2 separate regions of the Homo sapiens genome follow, and region 2 is linked to region 1. Evidence: fine-mapped expression QTL. Tissue or cell type: whole blood. Region 1 holds a variant in brackets; the other region holds the start of a gene. All regions are shown on one strand. Distances are between the middles of the regions.

Region 1 (4,000 bases):
AGCCTTTATTTATTTTTTTTTTTTTGAGTTGGAGTCTTGCTGTCTTGCCTAGCTGGAGTGCAGTGGCATGAACATGGCTCACTGCAGCCTTGAACTCCTGGGCTTAAGTGATCCTCCCACCTCAGATGTCCAGGTAGCTGGGACTATATGTACAGGCCACTATGCCCAGCTAATTTTTTTTTTTTAAGAGACAGGGTCTTGCTACATTGCCCAGGCTGGTCTCGAACTCCTGACCTCAAGTGATCCTCCCTCCTTGGCCTCCTAAATTGCTGGGATTACAGGCCTGAGCCACCACGCCAGCACTGATCAGCGATCTTTGATGTTACTATTGTAACTGTTTTGAGGTGCCATGAACCACGCCCATATAAAACAGTGAACTTAATAAATGCTGTGAGAGTTTTGACTGCACCAATCAGCCATTCCCTCATCTTTTTCCCTCTCCTCAGGCCTCCCTATTCCCTGAGACACAACAAGATTGAAATTAGGCCAGTGAATAACCTTACAATGGCCTCTGAGTATTGAAGTGAAAGGAAGAGTCTACCGTATCTAACTTTAAATCAAAAGCTAGAATTGACTAAGCTTAGTGAGGAAGGCATGTGGAAAGCAAAGGCAGGCGAAAGCTAGGCCTCTTTCAACAGTTAGCCGAATTGTGAATGCAAAGGAAAAGTTCTTGATGGAAATTAAAAGTACTACTCCAGTGAACACACGAATGATAAGGAAGCAAAACAGCCTTATTGCTGATATGCAGAAAGTTTAAGTGGTCTGGACAGAAGATCAACTACAACATTCCCTTTAGGCCAAAGCCTAATTCAGAGCAAGGCCCTGACTCTCTTCGATTCTATAAAGGTGGGGAGAGGTAAGGAAGCTGCAGAAGAAATGTTGGAAGCTAGCAGAGGTTGGTTCAAGAGGTTTCAGGAAAGAAGCCATCTCCATAACATAAAAGTACAAAGTGAAGCAGCAAGTGCTGATGCAGAAGCTACAGCAAGTTATCCAGAAGATCTAGCTAAGTGGCTACACTAAACAACAGATTTTTAATTTTTTTTATTTTTATTTTTTTTGAAACGGAGTCTCACTCTTATTGCCCAGGCTGGAGTGCAGTGGGGCGATCTTGGCTTATTGCAACCCCCACCTTCCCAGGTTCAAGGGATTCTCCTGCCTCAGCCTCCTGAGTAGCTGGGATTACTGGCGCCTGCCACCATGCCCAGCTAATTTTTTTTGTGTGTGTGTTTTTTGTAGAGACAGGGTTTCACCATGTTGGCCAGGCTGGGTCTCAAACTCCTGACCTCATGATCCGCCCGCCTCAGCCTCCCAAAGTGCTGGGATTACAGGTGTGAGCCACCATGCCCGGCCTCTTTTTCTTTTTTTTTTTTTTTTTTTTTTTTTGAGACAGGGTCTTACTCTGTCACCCAGGCTGGAATGCAGTGGCATGATCACAGCTTCTGCAGCCTCAACCTCCTGGGCTCCAGCCATTCTCCCACCTCAGCCTCCCAAGTAGCTGGGAATACAGTCGTGCAACACCATGCCTGGTTAATTTTTTTATTTTTTGTAGAGAAAAGGTCTCACTATGTTGCCCAAGCTGGTCTTCAACTCCTGGGCTCCAGCGATCCTCCTGCCTCGGCCTCCCAAAGTGCTGGGATTACAGGCATGAGTCACTGTGCTCAGTGAAAGTGGTTTCTTGAGATAGAATC[T/C]ACTCCTAGTGAAGATGCTGTGAACACTGTTGAAATGACAAGAAAGGATTTAGAATATCACTTAAACTTAGTTGATTAAGCAGTGGCAGGGTTTGAGAGGACTTGACTCCAATTTTGAAAGAAGCTCTACTCTGGGTAAAATGCTATCAAACAGCATTAAATGCTACAGAGAAATCTTTTGTGAAAGGAAGAGCCAATTGATGCAGCAAACTTCAATGCTGTCTTAAGAAATTGCCACAATCACCCCAACCTTCAGCAACCACCACCCTGATAAGTCAGCTGCCACCAACATCAAGACAAAACCCTCCACCAGCAAAAAAGATTACAACTCGCTGAAGGCTCAGATGGTTGTTAGCACTTTTTAGCAATAAAGTATTTTTAATTAAGGTATGTAGTTTTTTAGAGATAATGCTATTGCACATGAAAGAGACTAGTGCATAGCGTAAACATAACTTTATATGCACTAGGAAACCAAAAATGTTGTGTGACTTGCTTTATTTTGGTGGTTTGAAACTAAACCCAGGACATCTCTGAGGTATGCCTGTACTTTGCTCAACAGCTATTAACTGTCATCGTCATAAGCCCCATTTGTTGACCTTCTACTGCGTGATACTTTATATTGAACCCTCTAAGATATTATTAATCCCATTTTGCAAGTTAGGAAATTAAAGCTAAAACTCACCTGACAAGCTGAATTCAAACTCAGGACCCAAATAATTTGGAATCACCATACTGTTATTACCCTAGTAAAAAGCCTATCCACCCACAGGGCGAAATCACATTATAGTGTTATAAATTATTAATGAGGAATATGGGACATTGAACCTGGCTTCTCAGACATTTCATAAAGTCAGGAGTTACGAACTGCTTGCACTCACGTGACATAGATGCCAATTCCCGGGGCATGTAGCCATCTGTGCCCATCTGGTGCCATACTCCTGTAGCAAAATGATACCTCCAGAGTTCCCTGAAGAGAGGATAGTCTTCATTATCAGGCCCTCCCGATTCATCATAATCTGGGTTATAACCTCCAAACACATATAGGTTGGTATTATCTGCCACACAACGATGTCCACTTCGTGCTGGTGGAGGTCTGTGGCCTAGGAGAGAAGAGGACAGTTTTCCACAGGTGTCCTACCAGTTTAAAAGCACAAACAAAATTAGGTAACAACCATTTTAGCCATAAAAGGGGACCAGGAAGGATTTATAACATGGATATACTTCTTATTTGTTTAGATTTATAACATGGATATACTTCCTAATAATACTTCTTATGCACATATACTACTTAAGATTTTAAGGAGCTAGTCTCTACTTCTATTTTTTATGACTACCTTCAGATTTTGATAACTGTAAAAAGCATGACAAATTCAAGAAAATGGCTGACAACTTGAAATTTTCAAGAAAAGAAGGAGGAAAGATTTAATAATCCAAAAGCTAACAGGACAAGTTTTCTTATTTCCTTAGAGGAGAAAAAAACACAGGCCAACTAAATTAAACTGTGAATATTAGAGAACTAAATAAATATAATCACGAATATGAATGAGTCATGTATAAATAAAAATACACACACACAAAATCTATGATTTTTCCACAAGATATAATTATACACTTACAATGAAAACTGGCTGTTAAGGAGTTACAGTAAAATTTTGACTTTAAATAACATCCCGGATATTATGGAGGTTAACAAAGAATCTCCTTATATTTATCTCAGAGAGCATCTTTCATCCTATTAAGAGCTTTACTAAGAAAAGCTATTCCTACAGTTTAAATTTGAAAGTGTCCTGAAGTCTAAATTATATCAACTTTTTTTTTTTTTTTTTTTTTGAGACCAAGTCTCACTCTGTCACCCAGGCTGGAGTGCAGTGGCGCGATCTCAGCTCACTGCAACCTCTGCCTCCCAGGTTCAAGCAATTGTCCTGCCTCAGCCTCCCAAGTAGCTGGGATTATAGGTGCCCGCCACCATGCCTGGCTAATTTTGTGTTTTTAGTAGAGACAGGGTTTCTCCATGTTGGTCAGGCTGGTCTTGAACTCCTGACCTCAGGTGATCAGCCTGCCTTGGCCTCCCAACATCCTGGGATTACAGGTACGAGCTACTGCACCCGGTCTCAACTAGTTTACTAAAAATTACTTCAAGGTTATTTTAGAGTAAAAAAAAACAAAAAACAAAAAACTTTATTGTAGTTTCTGTTATCCTTAAAATGTTTATACCAATCTATACAAACCCTTGCCCAACTTCAGAACCAAAGATGCTTAAATACATATTGGATGGAATAAGAAGCTACTATAGTTGTGACCCTAAAGATGAA
Region 2 (4,579 bases), 47 kb after region 1:
ATTATTAATTGGGAGTAAGAAAAAAGATTGCTCCTTTTTTCTTTTTCATGTTAAAGATCGTATATTTAGCAATTCTAGGATGCCCAGTCTGATATTAACGTCTCAAACCCAACTTCTGGTATATTATATGACTACTTACAAATGCCTCGATTTAATGCATATAAATGGGGTAATGTACATTTCTAGCACACATCAACAACCTCATCACGAACATAAGCAATTGTCTCATTAAATGTGCTAAATTCCCTTTGTCATCTTCAATTTAATCAAATAATAATTTTTGACTAGAAGTATAAGGTACAGTCTTAAGCACAATTCATAAAAACCAATTCATCATGTTCTCAAAACTCATCAGCTAAACAAATATATCACTAATATAATCAATATTATTCACAAAAAACACGATGAATAATTAACACATCATTCCTGATAGTTCTTTTCATAGTAAAAATAAGCTTGCCCAGTGGGATATTTGACGTTCTCTGCATTATTTAATTCCCTACCTTCCTTCTACTAGATTGAATATTCAATTACAAACATACCTCTTTAAAATTGTCTACACATACATATCCACTTGATTTTATTTTGTTTTCAAAAGCATCTGAACTCAAGGCTAGGGCACTGTAGACCAAAATGTCAAATAATTGTATTGGGTACATTTTTCCAATTCTCAGTTGTTTTTATATTGTAAACACAGCATAATTGTGTCACTAAGTATATTTTTGATCTTCACTTTCTCCCCTTAAAACCTAGACACCATTATCCTGTCTCTGAACATTCCAAAATATTAATAATCCAACTAGTTTTCCCTAATCCTCTAGGTTCTCTTTCCCATACACTCCCCAGCCAACACTCCCCCACCCCTTTCTTCCGTTTCAGAATGCCTCTTACACACACGCCCCGTGTAGTTTTTACAAAATCACTCCTTGGAATGCGTTTCCTTCTTCTCTCCTTAACTTGGCACCCTTTTTGAAATAATTTCCCACAGCTAGGCGCCAATGTCTTTCATTTACAAGATCAAACTGCGGAAGGGGAAGAGATTGGGAATCGAGTAACCGAAACATTTGGAAATGTCAATGAGACAGTGGCCTCTCCTTTGAAAAGAAAACACAACTCTCAGCACAGAGCTTTCAACAGAGCACAGATACTTTTCTTCGCTGTGCTCCTGTTCCCTCCCTGACCTCAAAGACACCTTCCCTTTTCTCTGATCCCCAGTCCCTCTGCTATGCGTGGGGCCTGCCTTTCCTCCTCCCAAGGAAAAGCAAGCCAGGGAGAAAAAGAAAAGGTAGCAGTCACCTTCCCGCCCGCAAGCGGTCAGGACCCTGTCCCACGACTCACCTGGCAGGTGCGGCCGCCCGGAGAGTTGCACGAAGCGGTTGAGCTGGCCAGTCCCCCGACCCCCGCTGCCCCCACTGCCCCCGCCGGCCCCGCTACCTCCGCCACCAGCGCCGGCGGCGCCTCCTCCCCTCCGGCGGTTCCTGTCCCAGCCCTGGGCGGCCGACATGACCCGCTAACGATTGCCGCAGCCCGGTCCCGTCAGCGCCTGACCCAGCGGAACCAGCGGAGCCTCCTTCCTGGGCTCCTCCAGAGACCCAGGAGACAGGGGAAGGGGGCAGCGCCCGGTCCCACCAGAGACCAATGACTTACCGCCTTGGTGAAAGGCAGCCAATGGTCAGTCGTTTTCTTGGTAGGTGGCGGGAGGCGGAGAGAAACGTGGTAACCATAGCTATGGCTAAAAAAAAAAAAGTAGGGGGAGAGAAAGGCAGAAGCAGCCACTCCTAGCTCTCATCGTCCGCTCTGGGCTGGCCGGCGTCACCCCGACTCCTGCGGGGCCAGGCGGGCCAATCGAAGACCGAGTGTCAGAGGCCGCGCCTGCGGAAAGACTCCCGGGGACGGCCAGTGCCTCAGTCTTGGTTAGGATTCAGGAACTTTTTCCCATAAACATTGCAATCAGACACTGGATATACGCATAATACACATATTTGGGGGCAAGACGGTATTCTGCCAGCTTTTCAGATTGAGATCCCATTCACTGATGGTTGACACACACAAAGGGCTTGCTTGGGGTCCGGGTAGGTGAGGGGACCCAGGGGCGGAGTCAAAGCTAAAATGTAAGAACCAGATATTCCTGGGTTTCATTTGTCTTTCAGTCGGCTTAGCTGCATTTGTCCCTGTATAAGCCACGTCCCAATCAAACAGTTTTAAACCTGGTTAACAAATATGGGAAAATGTTCACTCTCACCTGTAATCTTAGAAATACAAAATAAAACCCCAATGAGAAACCATTTCTGGTTTATTACATCAGTAAAGACTTTTCAAATAACACCTGGCAGTGTGTGGAATGCCAAGAAAAAGGTATTCTCATAGATGGCTGATGGCTCTGTAAATATTTTTGTTCGCTCAAACTCCTTTTGGCTAGTAGAAAATTTTAATCAGCTTGGAAGATATATAATCAAGAGGAAATGTAAAATTAAATAAAAGGCAGCAACGGGTATGGAAGATCAAGATCAAAGAAAATTTTTAATGTGCCGATCAGGAGTTTCTATTGTTCCAAAATTAAACAGAAATTTTGGCTTGAAACTTACTGGGCGCAATGCAGACTGGGAAAACATACTATACACTGATGTTTCTGAATGATAAGGAAAAAGCATATCAAATTCCTCAAGGGAAACAAAACTTTTCAAGGTCCTTAGATGTGACAGATTTTTTTTTCTTTTGCATTAGAAGAACCTTACATGGTTGCAGAGAAAAAAAAGAAACTCTGCTGGAGCTGAGGACAAATACCCTTTGTACCTGGTGTGCAAATTTCTGGTCGCCACTGGCACTGCCTCCTTGTTTTCCTACTTCCAGTCCCTGTAGGCAGAAATGTTTTAGTCACTAGCACCATAGCACGCTGCTTATGAAAATGTTTGAGACTTGAAAAAAAAAAAAGCCTATGGTTCTAAAATATAAAAACCAAAATTAATATATGTTAACTGTTTTTTTTTTTTTTTGAGACGGAGTCTTACTCTGTCGCCGAGACTGGAGTGCAGAGGCATGATCTCGGTTCACTGCAACCTCTGCCTCCCAGGTTCAAACAATTCTCCTGCCTCAGCCTCCCAAGTAGCTGGGATTACAGGCATGTGCCACCACGCTCTGCTAATTATATTTTTAGTAGAGATGGGTTTTCACCATGTTGGTCAGGCTGGTCTCCAACTCCCCATCTCAGGTAATCCACCTGCCTTGGCCTCCCAAAGTGATGGGATTACAGGTGTGAGCTGCTGCGTCTGGCCAGTTTTTTATGTATATAGGCAAAATGCAGTCTTACACATTTTACATGTTTAACCTGTCTAATCCTCACAGAAATCCTATGAAATGCTGTTTTCCCAATTTGCAAAGCAAATTTGTAGAGATAGGGCAGTGTGTGGGGATGAGGGGGTGGTTTTGCCTTGTTGCTCCGGCTAGTCTAGAACTCCTGGCCTCAAGCCATCCTCCTGCCTTGGCCTTCTAAAGCATTGGGTTATAGGCATGAGCACCACGCCCAGCCAAAGTAGATTCTTAAGTAACACTTTTTAATTAATCAACTGGGAGAGATGAAATAAGAAAATAACATATAAAGTTTTGGTTGGGCGCGATGGCTCATGTCTGTAATCCTAACACTTTCTGTAATCCCAACCCTTTGGGAGGCCGAGGTGGGTGGATCACCTGAGGTCAGGGGTTCAAGACCGCCTGGCCAACATGGTGAAACCCGGTCTCTACGAAAAATTCAAAAAAATTAGCCAGGCGTGGTGGTGGGTGCCTGTAATCCCAGCTACTCGGGAGGCTGAGGCACGAGAATTGCTTGAACCCGGGAGGCAGAGGTTGCAGTAAGCCGAGATCGTGCCATTTTCACTCCAGCCTGGGCGACAAAGCAAGACTCCGTCTCAAAAATACATACATACATACATACATACATACATACATACATACATACATACATACAATGGCCGGGTGCGGGGGCTTACGCCTGTAATCCCAGCACTTTGGGAGGCCGAGGGGGGCGGATCACGAGGTCAGGAGAGGGAGACCATCCTGGCTAACACGGTGAAACCCCGTCTCTACTAAAAATATTTAAAAAAAAAAAATTAGTCTGGCGTGGCGGCCCGCGCCTGCAATCCCAGCTACTCTGGAGGCTGAGGCAGGGGAATCGCTTGAACCTGGAAGGCGGAGGTTGCAGTGAGCCAAGATAGCGCCGCGGCACTCCGGCCTGGGCAACAGAGCGAGACTCGTCTCAAAAAAAATAAATAAATAAAAATAAAATAAAATAAAATAACATAACATAACATAAAAAGTTTTAGTAGTCCCAAGATTTGGCTCAGTAGCTATATGGGTAACTGCTATGATTCGAATGTGTCCCCCACAGTTCATGTGTTGGAAACTTAATCCCCAATGCAACAATCTGGAGAAGTGGAACCTTTAAGAATGATTAGTACCTGAAGGTTCTGCCCTCATGAATGGATTAATGCTGTTATGGCGGGAATGGGTTAGTTATCTCAGGAGTGGGTTCCCAATAAAAGGATAACTTTGGTGCCTCTCTCTCTCTCCCTTTCTCTCTCTCTTC

Evidence for each region. PIP is the estimated chance that this variant, and not a neighbour inherited with it, causes the effect.
Region 2: KLHDC10 starts here. The variant in region 1 is fine-mapped to the expression of KLHDC10 in whole blood (TOPMed, PIP above 0.99). The same link has a PIP of 0.9 or more in fibroblasts.

What each region holds. Positions count from the first base shown.
Region 1 is chr7:130,115,233-130,119,232 of GRCh38, reverse strand. It overlaps KLHDC10 (kelch domain containing 10), which reads right to left. Exons shown (of 10, transcript NM_014997.4): 3 at 2,567-2,788. Among named protein-coding and RNA genes, the nearest start is that of LINC03008, 24 kb to the left of the region's middle. The variant T/C (reference allele first, on the strand shown) is at 1,689.
Region 2 is chr7:130,067,569-130,072,147 of GRCh38, reverse strand. KLHDC10 (kelch domain containing 10) reads right to left here and starts at 1,614. Exons shown (of 10, transcript NM_014997.4): 1 at 1,339-1,614. The coding sequence starts at 1,504. RefSeq lists a silencer at 1,410-1,579 and enhancers at 1,680-1,869, 1,900-2,099.